2 separate regions of the Homo sapiens genome follow, and region 1 is linked to region 2. A link means that fine-mapping ties the variant in region 2 to the expression of a gene that starts in the linked region. Tissue or cell type: tibial nerve. Region 2 holds a variant in brackets; the other region holds the start of a gene. All regions are shown on one strand. Distances are between the middles of the regions.

The links. PIP is the estimated chance that this variant, and not a neighbour inherited with it, causes the effect.
Region 1: it holds the start of DCLK3, and the variant in region 2 is fine-mapped to the expression of DCLK3 in tibial nerve (GTEx, PIP 0.96).

What each region holds. Positions count from the first base shown.
Region 1 is chr3:36,759,751-36,769,240 of GRCh38, reverse strand. DCLK3 (doublecortin like kinase 3) reads left to right here and starts at 4,688. Exons shown (of 5, transcript NM_001394672.2): 1 at 4,688-5,059. The coding sequence starts at 4,978. LOC105377029 (a long non-coding RNA gene) reads left to right here. Exons shown (of 3, transcript XR_940721.2): 3 at 1-253. It also overlaps the pseudogene HSPD1P6.
Region 2 is chr3:36,785,200-36,796,243 of GRCh38, reverse strand. No RefSeq gene overlaps it. Among named protein-coding and RNA genes, the nearest start is that of DCLK3, 26 kb to the right of the region's middle. The variant G/A (reference allele first, on the strand shown) is at 4,786.

The sequences.
Region 1 (9,490 bases), 26 kb after region 2:
TGGCCGAACTTAGCTACCTGTTGAAGTTTAGGTCTGCATCATATTTCTCCACATTTATCTCGGACCAGCAGATATTTAGGCTATTGGCAGAAGCATACCCGGGCAAACCAAACCATGGGAGTACTTTCTAACCCCCTGTTCACATTATGTTCAATAACATCCTACTGGCCTAAGTAAGAACGATGGTCACTTAGCCAGGTGTCGTGGTGTGCGCCTGTAGTCCCAGCTACTCAGGAGGCTGAGGCAGGAGAATCACTTGAACCTGGGAGGCAGAGGTTGCAGCAAGCCGAGATTGCGCCATTGGACTTCAGCCCGGGCAACAAGAGCGAAACTAAGTCTTAAAAAAAAAAAGGCCTCACTCACTGCCGACCTGCCTCGCCACGCCCCGGGCATGCCCTGCCACCACCTCACAGAAATGCTTCGGTTCCCCACTGTCTTTAGATAAGACCATTGTCCAGGGTATTGGTTCCTCATCTCACTCGGGCTTATGCCAAAGATGTAAAATTCAGTGCAGATGCCTGAGCCTTAATGCTTCAAGGTGTAGACCTTTTAGTCGATGCTGTAGCCATTACAATGGGGCCAAAGGGAAGAACAGTGATTATTGAGCAGAGCTGGGGAAGTCCCAAAGTAACAAAAGATGGTGTGACTGTTGCAAAGTCAATTGACTTAAAGAATAAATATAAAAATATTGAAGCTAAACTCGTTCAAGATGTTGCCAATAACACAAATGAAGAGGCTGGGGATGGCCCTACCACTGCTACTGTACTGGCATGCTCTATTGCCAAGGAAGGCTTTGAGAAGATTAGCAAAGGTGCTAATCCAGTGGAAATCAGGAGAGGTGTGATGTTAGCTGTTGATGCTGTAATAGCTGAACCTAAAAAGCAGTCTAAACCTGTGACCACCCCTGAAGAAATTGCGCAGGTTGCTACAATTTCTGCAAGTGGAGACAAAGAAATTGGCCATATCCTCTCTGATGCAGTGAAAAAGGTGGGAAGAAAGGGTGTCATAACAGTAAAGGATGGGAAAACACTGAATGATGGATTAGAAATTATTGAAAGCTTGAAGTTTGATCGAGGCTATGTTTCTCCATACTTTATTAATACATCAAAAGGTCAGAAATGTGAATTCCAGGAGGCATATGTTCTGTTGAGTGAAAAGAAAATTTCTAGTGTCCAGTCCATTGTACCTGCTCTTGAAACTGCCAGTGCTCACCGTAAGCCTTTGGTCATAATCACTGAAGATGTTGGTGGAGAAGCTCTAAGTACACTTGTCTTGAACAGCCTAAAGATTGATTTTCAGGTTGTGGCAGTCAAGGCTCCAGGGTTTTGTGACAAAGAACCAGCTCAAAGATATGGCTGTTACTACTGTTGGTGCAGTGTTTGGAGAAGAGGGGTTGATCCTACATTTTGAAGATGTTCAGCCTCATGACTTAGGAAAAGTTGGAGAGGTCATTGTGACCAAAGATGATGCCATGCTCTTAAAAGGAAAAGGTGGCAATGCTCAAATTGAAAAACATATTCAAGAAATCATTGAGCAGTTAGATGTCACAACTAGTGAATATGAAAAGGAAAAACTGAATGACTGGCAAAACTTTCAGATGGGATAGCTATGCCAAAGGTTGGTGGGACAAGTGATGTTGAAGCGAATGAAAAGAAAGACAGAGTTACAGATGCCCTTAATGCTACCAGAGCTGCTGTTGAAGAAGGCATTGTTTTGGGAGGGGGTTGTGCCCTGCTTTGGTGCATTCCAGCCTTGGACTCATTGACTCCAGCTAATGAAGATAAACTAATTGGTATATAAACAATCAAAACAACACTCAAAATTCCAGCAATGACCATTGCTAAGAATGCAGGTGTTGAAGGATCTTCGATAGTTGAGAAAATTATGCAACGTTCCTCAGAAGTTGGTTATGATGCTACTAGGGTCGGAGATTTTGTGAATATGGTGGGAAAAGGAATTATTGACCCAAGAAAGGTTGTGAGAACTGCTTTATTGGATGCTGCTGGTGTGGCCTCTCTGTTAACTACAGCAGAAGTTGTAGTCACAGAAATTCCTAAAGAAGAGAAGGACCCTGGAATGGGTGCAATGGGTGGAATGGGATGTGGTATGGGAGGGGGCATGTTGTAACTCCTAGAATAGTGCTTTACTTTTATTAATGAACTGTGACAGGAAGTCAAGGCAGTGTTCCTCACCAATAACTTCAGAGAAGTCAGTTGGAGAAAATGAAGAAAAGGCTGGCTGATGTTTAAGAAATCATTATAACCATCAGTTACTGGTTCAGTTGACAAAATATATAATGGTTTACTGCTGTCATTGTCCATGCCTATCAATACTTTATTTTGTATTTTTGAATAAAAAGACATTTGTACATTCCTGATATTGGGTACAAGAGTCATGTACCAATGTACTGCCTTCAACTTAAATAACTGAGGCATTTTTACTACTATTCTGTTAAAATCAGGATTTTAGTGCTTGCCACCACCAGATGAGAAGTTAAGCAGACTTTCTGTGGAGGGTGAGAATAATTATGTACAAAGTAGAGAAATATCCAATTATGTGACAACCTTTGTGTAATAAAAAATTGTTTAAAGTTAAAAACAAAACAAAACAAAAAAGAAAAGAAAGAAAAAGAAAGATGGCCAAGCCTAAAGTCAAGGTACAGGGAAACACACTCCAAGTACCATAAAGGGTGGATTGTCCAATTCAATTGAGGAATGGAGTGAATAACTGAAATTAATAATCTCACCTACCACATCATTATACCTGGATTCCAGGACGAAGGAAAAGGGACAAAGGAGTGCATCTGTCAGCCAAATCAGCATCTTTAAGGCATCTACTGAAAATCCAATACAACACTTACAATTATATTTCATTGGCCAGAAACTTTTCATATCATCACTCCTTGCTGCAAGGGAGGCTAGAAAATGTATTTTTTTTAAATTGCAGGTGGTAGTATGCTTAGCTAAAAAACATTTTTTTTAAAATACCGGATCAGAAATGAAAATAGGTGTTGAGTAGGCAATTAGCAATTTCTTTGCCAATATTCAACAAGATATATCCCTCACTCTTGTGAAGTAATCTGATAACTTAAGGTGTTCATTGTGATTGCTTGATATGTGTATATCTAGTTCGTATTTAAATCATGATAATCCAGCCAATAATTAAACACTGTGAGATTGCTGCTTTTGCAAGGAAGAAAACACAAGTCATCTGATCTCTCCTTTACAAAGCTTAAACCTTTTTACTAAAACTCAGTTTATTTAACTTTTATTTTCTCCTAAAATATAGGTGATAGGGCCAGGAAGAGTGGCTGTTAAAGAGAAAAGTAAGTGATTTTAAAAAGAAAGTGTGTAAGTATCTCAAGGACACTTGTCTCCCAGAGAGATTTCCAATAGGTTCTTCCTTCGGGTTTTTACTCAAATGTTACCTTTCCCAACCACTCAACTTACATAATCACATTCCCTTTTTCTTGGTTCATTTTTCTTCATACTATTTATCACCATACTTGTGTATTTTATTATCTGTCTCCCCCTACTAGAAGGTGAGTGACTTGAAGGCAGGGCATTTGTTGTGTTCACCATTGGTGAACTGGATTGCTGAAAACTGTCCTTGATGATGACTTCAGAGTACCTGGCCAACAAACCAGCTAGAACCAGGAGTTATTTTTTGCACAGCAGCATCATGGCATGGCTGTTGCAGCCATTTTGGAACCTTGAGGCAACAAGTCTGAGGAGAAAAGGCAAGATGTTGAAGGTGGCCATGTGGAATCATGGAAAGAGACTGAGTCCTTAACGTCATCCCTGAGCAGCTGAACACACACAGAGGAGCCTTCTTCCAGGCTTCTTGTTATGTGTGATAAAGAGAAAGACAGCCCCTGCCATCTGGGAGCTGGTCTGGTTCTATCAGCTCGGCCTTGGCGTTCTGTTGAGCATAAACAATTTCACAGAACAGCAACATCAGACCCAACAGACAAGACCACTTTGTGACTTGATTGATAAAGGCAAAAGCCAGACCACTCTGTAATCATGTCAACGGCCCTGTGGAGAGAAGGGTATGGCTGATCCAGTGAATTTATTATCTGACGCAGGAGAGATCTGGGAGTCAGTACCCGGGAATATGGGTCCCCAGACCCCGCACTGCAGACCTGAGGGACCTGCAAATATGAGGAACAGGTGTGTGGTGCTGGGAAGAGGTACAACAAAGCAAGGGGCCATCGAGCTGCCTTCAGATGGTACCAAGAAGCCACTAGGCTGGAGGAACGTTTTGCAGCCTAAGTCTTTGAGACCATGGGTGTGGACCAGAGTGTAAGCAGGTCTCTGAATCTGGGGGGCAACAAGGGTGTTAGAGTAGAACGGCCCTGGGACCTACGGTCAGTGTATCCAAGGAGCGGGAATGGGATAGGAGGAAGGAAGTGGTGTGGAAAGTCTGGCCCCTGCCCTGCAGGGAGGCACGAGGATGGCTGGTGGTCCTGGGGTCGCCTTTGGGCTGCCACCCACCCACAGAGAACAGGGGCAAAGCGCACGTTCAAAACCCAGCGCAGCCAGGTTCCACCGCGGAACTGCGCGGGGAAGGAGAGCAGAAAGGCTGGACTCCGCTGACCGGGGAGAGGCGGGACCGCCTTTGGGCGCTCACTGGAGAAGCAGGGGGTGTGGGAGCAAGTTCAAAGCCCGGCCCCGCCCGGCCTCCAGGGCCAGGAGCGGCGCGCATGGCGGGACCGGCGCAGAGAGGGCGGCTGCAGCTGGTGCGCGGTTGCTAAGTCCCGCGCCCCCGGAGACGTTCCCGGTGGCTGTCGCCGGGCGCTGCGCGGCGCGGGGCTGGCAGGCGGGCGGCGGGCGGCGGGAGGGAGAGAAGAGGGAGAGTCGGCGCGGGCTCGTGGCTGCTCGTCTCGCCCCGCCTTCCCGCGCCTGCTCGACCGTCGAGCCGCGTCCCCGCGCTGCCACCTCTGCTCCAGGCTCTCCCCGAGCCCGCCGCCGCGCCATGCCCGCCGCCACTCCAGCCCCGCAGCCGCCGCCGCCCCCGGCCCGGCCAGCCCCAGCCTGCCCGGCGCGGCCTGCCCCGGGTGAGTACCGTGCGCTCCGGCACCGACCCGTTCTGGGCGCCACCTTGGCGGGGGCGGGAGGACTCATTCGCCCTAACTCTGGACCCCGCTCCGTGCGGGATGTAGCAGCAGTGCCAGACCCCGCGTGGGTGTACGGAGGACTGTGTGTGTGTATGTGTGTGTACGTGTGTATGTGTGTGTACGTGTGTGTAAACGCGCGCGCGTGCGGGTGTACACCACCTGAAACCTGCTTTCTAGGGGAATAACGCTCTCCGGAGCTGATTTTATTTCCCTCGCCAGCAGGGGGGCCCTTCCTGGGAAACGCACTGGGTGTCTTTCAAGGTGCAGGTGCGGTGAGGCTGCAGAAGGGAGAAGGCGCAGGGAGGGAGCTGACATTTATTGTGCAACTCAACATGCCAAGCGCTTCACCTAGAGTTAAGCGTATTTCATCCTCTCCACAAATCTGTAAAGAATGGAATTATCCCCATTTCTCAGATGAGAAAACTGAGGCCCACAGAGCTCGTGCCTTGCCCAGGGTCACACGGCTCCATAGCAGCGGAGCTGGAGTTGGATCCAGGTCTCTAGAGGTCTCTGACCCATCTAAATGACAAGAAACCCTCCTTAGAACTAAAGAAACACAGAAGAACCAAAGATGATTAGGAAAAAGGATACAGGCAGAGCATTTGGGAATTAATATAAAAAAATCTGAGCTCGTGAAATATCCTATCAATTAATTTCAAATATAGGATCACATTTACACTCCTTTCCATGTCTGGCCCTGGGGGCGAGGTGTGGTGAGGAAGGGAGAAGGCTGTGCCAGTCCTTGGCAGAGGCGTCTGGGGACACCTTTTCAGAGTATCTGCCTGCTGGGAGGGGGGAAGTGTGTGAGAAGTTGTGGAGGGAACTCCGTTGTTATTCAATCCTAACAGTTAGTCATTCCTCCACCTCACCCCCTCCTAGTTGATTCCATTTCCTTTCCTTGATGTATTGTCCAAGATGACAGCTGTTAAATTGAAGCAGGGTCCCACCTTCATCATTGGCTGTCATAAAACCTCTTGGCATTAATTAGGTGGCCCTGCACTTTGATGATTGTATTAGGAGCTGTGAAGTGTCTGTGTAACTGCTTACAGTGGAGATCTGTTGGGCTGATGTTGAGCTAATGATCTTGATCAATGAGGCATCTACAGCAATAGGCAAGCATTGTGCTTATCCTTAGGATAAAGTAGCAAGAAGCAAGACCCTCAGGAAGAAAAAAAAAAAGAAAAGAGTATTGGGTTTGCCTCACAGCCCAACTTTAGAAAAGCATTTCAATTTAATATTTAAATTGCTTCACTGAAGAAAGAACAAAGAGGGGCAGAAAGTGTTTTCTGAAAGATGTTCTGTAACTCCTTTCATTTAGGTTTGAAAGATTTTTGAGTCATGTTCTTTTATGGTGAGCTTTGCCATCTTGGTGCGTATTGGTACCCTGGGTGCCTTCACTTCCAATTGCCAGTCCCTCCATCTCTTTGTTGGAGGATGACCCTTGGGCGGCAGAGCCTATGTTTGTAGGGACTCAGAACAGGGAGTGCCTGGGAATTTACATCTCCCCTGGGGCAGCCCCTCCTCAATGACTGATGGGTGCTGGAGTATAAATAGTCCAGCTTCTTTGCCCTTGATTGGGACACTCTGAAGCATGACATCCTTTGTTTCCAGAGATCCAATGTGGAGTTGTGTCAAATTGACCTCTATGGTTCTTTGCTTGGCTTGTTTCCCTCGCTTGGCTTGCTACTTTTTCTTGTTTTACTTCTTCACATCCCTACCATTTTTTCCTAGGAATATCTCCTAATACACTTTCATAGGAATTCTTATCTCAGGATCTGATTCTAAGGAATCCAGATAAAAACATGGACCCTTCTCACTGTCAATGTTTTTATTCTTCCTATGTTATCCAAACATGACTAACATCGGTAATAGGTAGCCCATGCTAACCTGTAGGGTGCCTTTGTATGAATTCACAAAAGGTGTTCCCTTCTGGGCAGATGGATCCCCATGCCCAGGCAACGGATTGGCAGACAGGTGTTCAGTGTCCACTAGCCCCCTGATCAGTGCTTCTTTGGCAGTGCACACAGTACTCAATGATCATGGTGGCGTGGTGCTCAGAAAAGCAAAAAACAGAGTTGCTTAGTTGTCCCAGGATCTCATTTCTGGCTTCTCTTTTTTCCCAAGAAAAAATCCCCCAAAGAGGGATTTTCCCCTTTTTTCCCCTAAATATTTGAATATTTCAGGCAGATGTTTTGGTTTTCTTTGGACAAGCCAGTCTTAGTTTCTTTCTAAAGCCAACAAAGGGGAGGAAAAGGGCTGCTTTGGCTGGTGGAATCTCAATCCTGCAGCCTGCAGGCGGGTGGTGGTGCCTGGTCAGGGAGGGTGGGTAGGTCTCCACCAGCCTCCAGAAGTTCTCAGAGGGGTCTTGTCTTGACGGTGAGGTTACTGGGTAGGGGCTTGGATGGGCTGCTTTAGTTGGAGGCTCTTGCTTGAAGACGTTTTCCTTTCCTTGGATCCAGGAGGGTCATTGTATCTGATCTGGCATCCTGAGTTTCCTCACCTTTTCCTTTGGTGGCCTCTTGATAATGTCTAAATTTTGCCCGTCTGCTGGTGGAGCAGAGCCCCTTTTGAAGATGCATACGTGGGGGAGTTCTTTGAAAAGAATGTTTTTGTTAACTGCTTGGTAATGTAGGTCAGAAGAGAGAAATCTAGGGAAAGTGAAAGAGTGGGAAGAAGACATCTGTACTGGGAATTGGGGAGGGGAGTTTGGCTCCATCCTCAGAGTTCTGAAGCCTCCTGGTGACCTGGGGCAAGTCACTGAACTTCTCTAGGAACCTCAGTATCTTCACCATTCATTTAATAGCAATTGTTCAGCCAGCCTCAGAGTGTTCTTTGATGGTCAAAGGGGAAATATTTTCATGGACTCATCCAGTGATTATAGGGGAAGCCCATAAAATCTTTATACAGAGACAACTGGCAATCTCTTGGGGACAGTGGTGTATGTAGAGGCATCATGATGTGGATAGCAAGTGGTAGAATAGAGATAATCACCAGATCAGTGGCTGCATGAAGGGACAGGGAAGTCTCCAGAGCTGCTTGGGCTGGTTTTGAAGGCTAAATGTTGACAGAATTTGCAAAGGGCAGGGTGTCATGTAGTGTGTAGTTATGGAGGTGAGTCCATCAGAATTGCTTTCACATTTGGGCTCTGGCCCCTCAAACCCATGTGATCCTGAGCGAGATACCCAACTACTCTGAGCCTCGGTTTCCTTATTGGTAAAATGGGCATATTCAAATTGCTCTGAGGATTTAGTGATGTAAAGCAATTACCAGATATTATTACAAATGAAAAGTATTGTTATTAAAGTTACCTTTTAGCTGAATGGATTCTGTTTGGCTGCCTGGGGCCAGTACTTTTTGAATATTGCTGGACATATGAATCATCTGGGGATCTTATTAAAATATAGATTCTGATTCAGGAGGTCTAGGGTGGGGCCTAAGATTCTGCTTTTCTCCCTAGCTCCTAAGTTCTGTAGATGTTGTTTCTTTCTTTTTTTAATTATACTTTAAGTTTTAGGGTACATGTGCACAACATGCAGGTTAGTTACATATGTATACATGTGCCATGTTGGTGTGCTGCACCCATTAACTCGTTATTTAACATTAGGTATATCTCCTAATGCTATCCCTCCCCCCTCCCCCAACCCCACAACAGGTCCCGGTGTGTGATGTTCCCCTTCCTGTGTCCATGTATTCTCATTGTTCAATTCCCACCTATGAGTGAGAAAATGCGGTGTTTGGTTTTTTGTCCTTGCGATAGTTTGCTGAGAATGAAAATGTGGCACATATACACCATGGAATACTATGTAGATGTTGTTTCTTTAGGGACCACATTTTGAGTACAAGGCCCTAGGCTACTCCCTCTTGGGTAAAGCCTGAGTCCTTTGTGGGACCTGAAGAGCACTGTGTTTGGAGAGATGATGGGGAGGGTTCAGGCCTCCTAGGCAGGTCTGGCCTGGAGCTGGGGTAGAGAGAGCTAGGAATTGCTGCTGTTGAGTAGGATGTTCCTACTGGGTAGATAATGGATCAAACCCAGCTTCCTTCAAATGCCCTAGGACCAGCCTCCTGGAGGAAATTCTTCCTGGCCAAATGGCCAAATACTGCCTGCTCTTGCATGCTGGCCCTGAGGATGTAGAGATGAATAAGCCATTGGCCCATCACTGCCCCTGCCACAGTGTGATTGCGGGGAGTGGGTGAGGAGGTGTGAGACATAGAAATGTACGATTATGATATGGTGAGATGAGCACTCTGTGGCGTTAGGGTAATGGAGAGGCAGGTAAGAGAGTTAAGAAAGGGAGGAACCCTTCCTGGTGGTAATTAAATCTGAACTGGGTTTTGATGGATAAATCACTGTGTCTGGGATTGGAGGAGGGC
Region 2 (11,044 bases):
TGGAGACATTTTTGGTTGTCATAACTGGGAAGGCGTTACTGGAATCTTGTGGGTGGAGGCCAGCAATGCTGTTAAACATACTGCAATGCACAGGACAGCCTCCACAACAAAGAATTGTCCAGCTCAAATTGTCAATAGTGTTCAGGTTGAGAAAACCTTTTGATAGTCTTGGTTTTGAGTGACAGGGGGCAGTAAGATCAAGAGGAATCATCTATTAATTCTATTATATACATGTATCACTGGTTTTCCAAGTTAGTTTCTGTTGCAGGTTGGGTTCCATGAGAAACTGACTCTGAGATAGAGTTTAGCTTGCAGGATATTTATTAAGTAGAGGCCTGGGGATCAATGCTTATGAAAGGGAGAGGCAGAAAGCAGAAGTGAGCCAAAGGAAGGTCCAATGACAGCCATGGCTCTCTAACTAGAACGATGCTTCAAAGTTGTCCAAAGTTGGGTCAAGAAGTCCAGGCCTTTTATACCCTATCTTGATTAGTCATTGAATGTTGGCTATCCTGGGAAGAGTGTGACCTTGGTTGAGGGGACTCTGAAGCTGAAGCAATATCTGAAGGGGCTGAGGGCTCAGGACTATCCACTGACAGGCCCCCCCAGCAGTTGGGGCAACAAGTTATTCCCTGGAGGGGCTTCTGGGCAGGGCATCACAGTCTCCATCACAAAATATGGGGGTTTCAGGATCAGTAGGAAAGATAAGGAAGTAGAGGAATTGTGCAGGTGAGGGCAGGAACTGCTAACACTACCATCTCCTCTTTCAGGGAAGAATGAAATCAAAAGGCTCTTTTGGAAGCTGGGGCCGTTCTTGCTGGGTAGCAAAGAGAACAGCATTTCCAGGTGAGGAGCTCCCACATTCGCCCTCCCTCGTGGAACCGGAGCCTTGCTCACAAACTGTTGCAATGGTCACCTGCTTAAGGCACAGTAGATGTTTGAAAGATTAGGAACTGTCGCCTTCTGTGGGAAGGGTGGGGTTACTTGAATAAGGTAGCAGTTGGGTGCACCAAATTGAAAGACACTGAAGTGAATGAATATGGAAAGTGAGGATCCATTAGAAAAAGAGACTGAGTGAGGAAGGGAGGGAGGTTCATCCACAGTGGTCATTCCTCTTGAAAAGGCCAAAAACCCTTTCAGATGGAGCTCCTCCTTTGTTTCTCCCTCGAGTTTCTATTACTCTGAGGTTGTTCAGACCATTTGGTACAGAAACTTACATGTGTGTTGTGATGCTGTGGTTTGGTCTGGGTGGGGTTAGCAAAGTTGGATGGCTTAAGGAAGGATGGATAGAATCTGTCCTAGTCATATCCTCATGGCTGTGAGGATCTCAAGGGGAGTCACCAGTAATTATTAGCAACAATGGATGAAACCAGGAGCTGGTTGTGTTAGCAGATGCTGATGTGTGAGGGGCAGTAAGCCTGAATTTCCTAGTTGCCTCCTTAGGTGAGCAGGACTACTTTTGAGTCAGTAAGAGATGGGGAGACAAGCAGGGGGCACTCTGCTATTTCAAGTCACATGTAGAACCAATGACTTATCTTTGTAAAGCTGGGAATGGTTACAGGATATGTTGTACATGGAAACTATCAGTCTTAGGTGTAAGGGGAAAAAACTGAAAATAGGTGGTGTATGTTAACTGTTCAGATTAGTGTGTGAAGAGGGATTGAAATCTATGGTTCTAAAACCCAGCTGGACAGGCAAGAGGAGAATTCAGGTATTGGAGTGGGACTGTATAAAACTGGAAAGAGCCTTAGAGGTTGACTCCTTTTAGCCCTGCACCCTGACACACACACACACACACAAACACACACACACACACTTTACAGCTGAGAAACTGAGGCCAGAGAAGAAAGAGCTGAGCCAAAACTTTACACCCATTGTGGTAAATCAGATGATCATTCCCAACTGTTGGCTGCTGCTCTCCACTGGGTTTATAGCCACAGTGTCCCTCGCAGGTGCCCCTGTCTGTGGATGGATTATATTTCTGCTAAGGACGTCAGGGTTGGCCATTTTGACTTGCTTTGGCCAATACACTGTTCTATTTACCATATGTAAATATAAGCTCTAAGTGCATCAGAAGGCCCACCATTGCTCTTTCCCCTCTGCCATGAGACTGGTGTTCATCTCAGAGAGGGGCTGCACATTTAGCCTAGATCTCAGAATGAAGAAGACATGTGGGCCGGGTGCGGTGGCTCACACCTATAATCCCAGCACTTTGGGATGTTGAGGCGGGCAGATCAATTGAGGTCGGGAGTTTGAGACCAGCCTGGCCAACATGGTGAAATCTTGTCTCTACTAAAAATACAAAAATTAGCTGGGCATGGTGGCACATGCCTGTAATCTCAGCTACTCGGGAGGCTGAGGCAAGAGAATCACTTGAACCCAGGAAGTAGAGGTTGCAGTGAGCCAAGACTGCGCCACTACACTCCAGCCTGGACAACAGAGCTAGACTCCGTCTAAAAAAAAAAAAAAAAAAGACACATGGAGCAGATCTGTAGTTGACTCATGGCCCACATGTAATATGAACAAGTAACAATCCTTTGCTGATGTAAGCCACTGACATTTTGAGATTTTCTTTTATTTTTTAAAAAAATCACAGCATATAACTTAACCAATGCTGATTATTCCTAAGAGTGGGCTAGGCAGGCCAAAGACAGGATGGGGCCAAGGCAAAGGGCCTAGTTGAAAAGATGTCTCAGAAGAGACTAACTAAAGTTTGGTGAGGGAGAGTGTCTTTGCCATTATATAATACAAGAATAAAAAAGACAGCATCTACATCACCATTGCAGACATTGCTAATCAGCTATGGCACTTTTCCTACTGAGTGCTCCTGAGAAGGTTCAGAATCCTTCTCAGTAGCACCACATGTTAATCAGTGTTTCAAGCAAGATTGAATCCATTTGCTAAGAGCACAGACTTTGAGGCCAGTGCTCTGATTTCACATTCAGGCTTCACTGCACACTCTTGTGTGAGCTATGTGAGTTGAGTGAGTTACTTAGCCTCTCTGTGCTTCCTTCTTTGTAAAATGGGAATCGTGCTAGTGTGTACTTCCTAGGGTTGTTGTGAGGATTAAGTGAGTTAGATATATAGAGTACTTACAACAATGCCTGGCACATAGCGAGTACTGAATGATGACGATGTTGATGAAATTAGAGAAGAAGAAACTGAGACCTAGTCATTAGTGGAGCCTAGCCTGGCTGTCGCTCATATGTACCTCCCCATTCCCAGCCTGCCTTATTAACAAGGGGTGCTGGGCAGAACCAAGACAGTGATGGAGAGGTGTTCCCCATGCTATGGGAGATCACCGCTGAGGAAGATTAATATGGTCAGGGACTGATATGTAGGCCTGAATGCTGTGAAATCACTAAACCATGTCAGAAAGTGACATTAAGAAAGGACCCTGCTGCTTCCTTTGCTTCAACATCTTCCCTTTCTAGGAGCCATCTTTTTAGATTGAAGTATCCTGATCAATATAGTCGTTTGCTGTTTAATAATAGAAGTGCATCTCCATTATCCTCATCCCCTAGGATCCCTAGGCCCCTTATAGGTCTCTTGCTTCCTGGGGACTGACACCGGCCCTGTTGCTTGGCTGGCGGGGTGGGGGTGGTGGTGCTCAGGGTCTGCCTATCACTCCCCCTCCCTTGAGCTATGGGTATCCCTATGGGTACCAAGGCATCCGTAGCCTGGGGAGATGCCTCTTGGTCAGCAGGTCTTGAGCTCCCCCTGTGGGAGAAGAAGATTCCCAGGCTGATCTAGAAGGGCCCCTCTACAAATCAATGCAGATGGTGCAGGGAACTGAGCCTGCAGGCGAGTTATTTCTTAAGCTTTCCAGGTTTTAGTTTGGAAACTGTTGTCTGGATCCAGGTGGGAGCCATCTCCCTTCCTCCTCTGGCTATGCCCTGGATCTGCCCTCTTCTGCCTCCCTCCATTTTTGCTCTTACTTCTCTTTTTTAAAGTGTGCTCTGGAAAAAGACTATAATTGTCTCATCCACACTGCAATGTAAGTATATTCATTCAAGGAGTGTTTATTGAATGTATTCCATACCCTGGCTAAATCCTGGGGACACAGATGCTCTAGAATGTAAGGACCATGCAGTACAGTTCTCCTTGGACTGATCTAGTTCTTCCTCCTTTCTCACTTGCAGTTCTCAAGAATAACTGGCATGTGCTGGAAATATAACATCTTGAAATAAGGAGGAAGTGGCCAGAATACTCTGGGCTCTGATCTTGTCCCTCCTAGAACAAGGTGTCCTTCAATGCCTTAGCCCAGCATATCATGTTGTTCCCAGGGTATAAAACCCAGGAGGACTGCTTTCCCGGCCCTTCAGCTGTTGGGCAAGTGGGGCACGTGAAGACAGGATTCCATCCACTCAGGACAGCTTTTCTGAGCCTTGGGAACTGACTTGCTATGAATTCTAGGCTTTTACTCTTTCTTGCTGTCTATCTGTGAGTAAAAACGTTGCTTCACTTAACTTGCATGAGTGTTCTGTCTCACTGGACTCAAGCAAGTAGTAGAAATTGCAGCCCAAGATGCAGTGGGCTAAAGTGGTAACCAGTGCACAGTGAGCCAGCTTTGCAGTCCATGGAGGCAGAGATATTCACTGTTCTGTTCACTGATGACTCCTAAGGGGCTAGATCAGTGCCAGCCATATAGAAGGAGGTCTATAAGTATTTGTTAAATGAAAAGACATAAAAGAACTATGGGAAACAGATATACAAAGAGCTAACTGTTGCAAGGGAGCAACAACTATTTGGGCTGGTGGAGCGGGGGTAAAAAAATTTACCAAGACA[G/A]TTGTGGATAAAGAACGGCAGATTTGTGAGAGACAGTAGAAAATACTTTGTTGTGATGAGGCAATGGGCAGAATCAGCAGAAGAGGAGTGGACTGCCAGGAAACAAAAGCTTGCTGGGGATTTTCTAGAAGAGTGTTTATGCTGTGTGCTGAAGAGGGCTTTGTGCAGTACCGATGATGCCAAGGTTGCAATGGATAATTTGCAGGTGCCTGGTGGCAAGTTGTGTGCAGGAGGGCTGCATATCCAGGACATTGAAGAAAGGCAGACTTGCCCCTTATCTGCTTTCTCTTTCCTGCTTTCCCCTGCTCCCTCTAGCCTGCTCCCTTTTCCCTTTCCCTTTCCCCTGCTCCCTTTTCCCTAATTAGGACTCTGCACTAACTGCCACACTGTGGCAAATACACAGACGTTGTAAGGATTGGGGATTATGGAATTCTGGCTGCCTAGTAGGAGGTGTTAGGAAGGGCTTCACGAGGAGGAGATGATTAGGTTGAATCTTAACGAATGAGTCAGAGTGGAGCTGGGCACAGTGCTATGCACCTGCAGTCCCAGCTACTTGAGAGACTGGGATGGGAGGATAACTTGAGCACAGGAGTTTGAATCCAGCCTCGGCAACATAGTGAGATCCTGTCTCTTAAAAAAAATGAGTCAGAGTGACTTGTGAGAAGTCTGAGGCGAACGGGAAGAGCATTCCTTATCGAGGACCATATAAGCAAAGGCCCACAAGTGAGCAATTCATAGGCTATGGGGGCTAAGGAAGAGGGAGGCATCAAAACTGACTCCCAAATTTTTGATTTAGGCAATTGAGTTGATATTGGTTCCATTCACTGAGCCAGGGAGCACTGGAGAAGAAGCATGTTAGATTTGAGATGCTTGTGTGACAACTAGATGGAGACCCTATGGGTGATAAGCTGAAGGATGAGTATCCAGCTTGGGGGAAGGGATGGGATGCAGGTAAGGGCATGAGAAGGTGGCCTGAGGAGCATGACTGCGGGATAGAGCCATGGAGCAAGCAGCACTTAAAGGATGGACAAGGAAATAAATTCTGTGAAGGAGGTGAAGAAAGAATGGCTAGAAAGGCAGGTACCTACAAATGTCAAGGGTATGGAGGGATTTTAGGAGGTGAGAGGGGTCACCTGTGCCAAATGTAGGAGTGTATGAGGCACAGTGATTGGAACATTCCCACTGGGTTCAACAGTTAGAAGGTCTTGAAACACTTAGCAGGAATTGTTTTAGCAGAAGAGCAGAAGCCATTGGGTTGAAGAGTAACTTGGAGTAGAGAAGGTGGCCCTGAGCAGTGTCAACAACTCCTTTCAAAGGACTGATGAAAAGCTGGCAACAGCTAATCCTTCTCACCATCCTGGACAAATTAACATTTTGATAAGGGCAAAACTTGTTTTACTTTAAGTTCATGGAGTGCAGGTCCTGTAATAAAGCATGAAGTGTCAGTGTGTCTGTGGGAGGTGAGTTTTCTACAGGGTGAGGAGGAGGGACTTGATTCCAGTGCAGTGGTTCTCACAGTGTCTAAGTGCTGAACCAGTAGCATCAACATCACCTGGAAACTTGGTGTAAATGCCAAGCCTCAGCCTCATCCTGAGGAATTCTGCATCAGAACTCTGGGGGAGACCTAGGAATCTGTTTTTATAAACCCTCCTGATGATTCTGATGTACACCAAAATTTGAGAACTGCTGGTCTGGAACCCTCTTTGAGAATCACTCTTCTAAGTATTTTATTGGATTTATACATTATTGGGTAAGAATTGGCAGCTTTGCCATGTTAAGTTACCCTAGCGATGAAGATTGCGTAGCTCTCCTTTTAGATACTTCTTTTATGTTCTTCATAGCAGTGTAAAATTTTCTCTGCAGGTAACGTGGTCATTCCTTGTTGTTAACTCTGACTCTTGAGTGTTTCTGTTGCTAGTATGAATGGTATTTTATCCCCTACAAGATTATCTGATTGATTTTTGCTTATGTAAAGAAATGGGGCTATTTTGAATTTACCATACAGAGAAGTGAACATAAGAGGACAACTCAGTGAAGTTCCACAAACTGAGCACTTCCTGTAACCAGCACCCCAGATCAAGAATCAGAACGTGACAAGCACCTAGAATCCACCTTTTTGCCTTCTGTTAGTCACAATGTCCCCAAGGGTAAATACTACCATGACTTCTAACTTATGTTTCTTTTGCCTGTTTTTGTTCTTTATATAAATGTAATCATATGGTGTAAAATAGTTTGCATCTGACTTATTTTGCTCAATATTGTGTTTTTTCTTTAATTTGTAATGGGCAAAAGTTATGTATATTTCTGATGTACAACATGATGTTTTGATATATGTACACATTGTGGAATGGCTAAATCATCTCCATTCAGCCTGTGTCCTGCCCTTTTGATTTCCCTGGTGGGAATCAGATAAGAGCCCATTGTATCTCCCTAATTTTAGGATAGTCAGCTTTCTGAAGTCCTCTTTCTTGTCTTGAAGCAAAGTAAAAATTGCAATTCACCTTTACCTCCAGGAGCCAGATATGAGTTTCAAAACCACTCTCTAAGACATACTCCTCAATCATACTGTTTATAAATTGAAGTAGGTGAGGACTTACAAAGGTCATGTGTTCCACTGTGGGATATCTACTTTGAAAGGGGTGGTCTGTCCCTCAATTCCATTTCATAGCTTGGGCACTCATTCCCAACTTCCATTTTAACATGCTGACATATAACATTACTTCAACTAATCCTAAAACTCTGCAATAAAGATATTTTCATCTCCATTTGATGAGGAGACTTCCTGAGCCAGAGGCTAGGAAGCTAGGAGTTCAAATTACTTTCCCAAGGCCACCAGGTTGGTGAGCACCAGTGCTAGGATTCCAGCCCAGGCCTGTCTGACTCCAAATTCTGTGTTGAATCCATAATAATACAAAATAAATGTTGCAGGTTGGGTTCTCTAGAAGCAGATGCTGAGACAGAATGCAGGGCTCATGGTGTTTATTAGGAGTCAAAATATGTAAAGGGAAGGGACAGGAAACAAGATTGGGAAGACAGAGAAGTCAAACTGCAATGCAGGCTAGGCACAGTGCTCATGCTTGTAAGCCCAGCACTTTGGGAGGCCTAGACAGGCAGATTGCTTGAGCCCAGAAGTTCAACACCAGCTTGGGCAACATGGTGAAACCCCATCACTAGTAGTCTCAGCTACTCTGGAGGCTGAGGTGGGAGGATCACCTGAGCCCAGGAAGTTGAGCCTGCAGTGAGCTGAGATTACGCCACTGCACTCCAGATGGGAGTGAGACCCCATTTCAACAAAACAAAACAAAAAAATTACAATGCAGGCCTGACAAGGCCTTGCCCTACATGGCAGGGTGTTCTGGAGCAAGAAGAGCTATCTCCACATGTGCTGAAATGCCTGGGCCTTACTGCCCCCACCTCACTCAGTCTCTGATGTGGGCTGCCCCCAGAAGGGCATGACTTCCACCAAGGTGGCTTTCTGCAGTTGAGCCTGATCCTGAAGGAACTGGCAGCTGGAGGCAACAAATCCTGCATTGGTGGGGGCTCTGGGTGACTCATCTCTATGCCTGAAGCACCATGAAGATTTGAGACTTCTCCTGGACCTGACTATTCCCTTCCCAGTGAGAGGCAGCACCAGTTCTGAGTAGGGCAGAGGGCAGAGGGCAAAAGGCAGATGGCAGGATATTATGGGAGCTATGTCTGTAACAGTCATCAACTGGGAGACGGTGAGGGGAGAGGTCCATTCTGAGGAGCCTGTGGTGGGCTCTATGAGGGGGTTGTGGTGTCTGAGAAGTGGGCAGCCTCTGTGGAAGGAAAAGTGGAAGCAAGATGCAGGGGTGGGTGTGGGCAGGGTCAAGAAGAGTCTCTCTTTGAAAGAAGAAGCAGCCTCAGGAACCCAAGCTGAGGGAGGAGCCTCCAGCACTTGGCTGTGGTAACCCTCTATGGGAGTGGCCTCTTTTTTATTAAGCCATCTTTTAGCTGACATGTGAAGAGTGAGCAAATGCTGGCTGGATGAGGAACTGGGAAAGAGCATTTGAGGCATATGGTGCAGCATGGCAAAGTCTCTGAGGCTCAGAAGAACTTAACCAGGTCTTAGAATGAGGCTATAGTTATCAGATCAGAGCAAGTGTAGGAGAAAAGGCCAAGAGGTACACAGTAGACCAAATCATGCAGAGGCTCGTAGGCTGTGGGGAATTTTGCATTTCACTCGAAGAGCAAGGAAAGCCATTGCTCTGCTGATCTGAAGCAGGGGAGAGCCCTAGAAGAAAAGTCCAGGAGTGTACAATCAACATACAGACTTAGGCTTCTTTCAACAAAGGACATGTTTGTTTTTTCTCAATTCTGAAAAGTGAGTAGGAGTTAGACAGATGGGGGTAGAGCAGGCATGTGAGAATGTTCTAGGCCAGGGGTTGGCAAGGCTTTTCTATAATGGGCCAGATAGCAAATATTTTCATTCTGTGAACCATATGATCTCTGTGGCTGTTATAGCACCAAAGCAACTGTAGACAATATAGAAGTGAATGGACATGGCTGGATTCCAGTAAAACTTTACTTACAGAAACAAATGGCAGGCAGGATTGGCAGAAATGCCCTGTGGGCCATAGTTTGCCAGCTGCTGTTTTAGGCCAGGGGACAGCAGGTACAAAGGCCCTGAGATGGGAAGGAATGAGGTATATTTAGGGAACTGATTCATGGACAATGTGGCTGGAGTTATTAAGCAAGGGGGTTAGCAGCTCAGAAGAAGTATGGAGTTAAGGGCAGGTGCTAGATGATTTTACAGTCTTGTAGCCCATGTTAATGATTTTGTATTTTACCTTAATGGGAAGTCATTGAGTAATTTAAACACTTTCAATTTAGCTATAAACATATACAGAAAAATGCACATATGATAAGTGCATAGTTTACTGAATTTCCACAAACTGAATATCCACATAAACAGCACCCAGACCAAGAAACGGAATATTATCAGAAGCCAAGAAGGACTCACTTTGTACCCCCTGCCAGTCCACACCCGTCCAGTAAGCACTATTTTGACTTTGCACAACATATATTTGTTTGCCTGTTTTTCTATTTTATGTATATGGAATTATCTGTTATCTGGCCTCTTTCACTCAAAGTAATGTCTATGAAATTTGTCTGTAGTAGTTGTAGATTGTCCATTCTCATGATATGAATACACAATTGGGTTGTGAATAAGCATTTGGGATGTTCTCAGTTGTGGGCTGTTATGAATTGTGCTGCTCTGAACATTTATGAACATGTCTTGATAAATATGCATTTCTGTTGGATGAATATGCTTAATGGTATAATTGCAGGGTCACAGGATGGTTGTATATGCAGCTTTAGCAGATATTATAGAATCATTTTCCAAAATGATGATACCATTTCACATTCTCACTAACAAGGTATGAGAGTTCCAATCTCTTCTCACACTCACCTACACTTGATATTCTGCACTGAAAAATTTTAATTTTTTAGCTATTCTGGTTGTTTTGTAGAGATATATCACTGGGGTTTTAATTTTCATTTTCCTAATGAGTGAACAGGGGAGCATCTTTTCAAAATTTTATTGGCCATTGTAGACTTTTCCAAGAGCATAAAATGATCACATCTGCATTCTAAGTAATCCTCTCTGGCTTTTGGTGTGGAATATCTATTTGTGGATGCAGCAGGAATCCAAACAGGGATTTGAGTTAGGAGATTGTGGCAGTGGTCAAGACCAAATGTGATGATAGCTTGGACTAGGGCAGAGGTAGTTGAGTTGGAAAGATGTAGATGAATTTGAAGGCCGTTTTGGAGGTAAAATTGTCAGGACCTGAAGGTGGATTAGATGCAGGGACTGAGAGAGAAGAAGGTATAAAAATTGTGGCTGCAAAATTTCTGGTTAACACACCATTTCTTCCTATTCTGAATTTTAGGTTTGAGATCATTTCATATATTTTCTTTAGGGTTTTTTGGTTACTTTCAAAAGCCTGGAGAAGAAAATTTTAATTGGAAAAAAGAAACACATCGAATATGGTAATTGAATATGACCTTTTTATTATTCATTTTTATTTGACATTTCTTTCTTATTCTCTCAGGTTTCTGAATTCTTGTTCCAGATGGCTCAGAAATGAAATAATCATAAGAACCTAGGTAAGTATTATATTGGTTGTGAGAAAATTCTCAGAAGCATAGGGCCCTTTAGAGACTGCTGGTCTGGCTGGTGAGGTAAAGAGTTTTGAGACATTTTTTATGACCTGCTCTTTCTGTGGCTTATTTC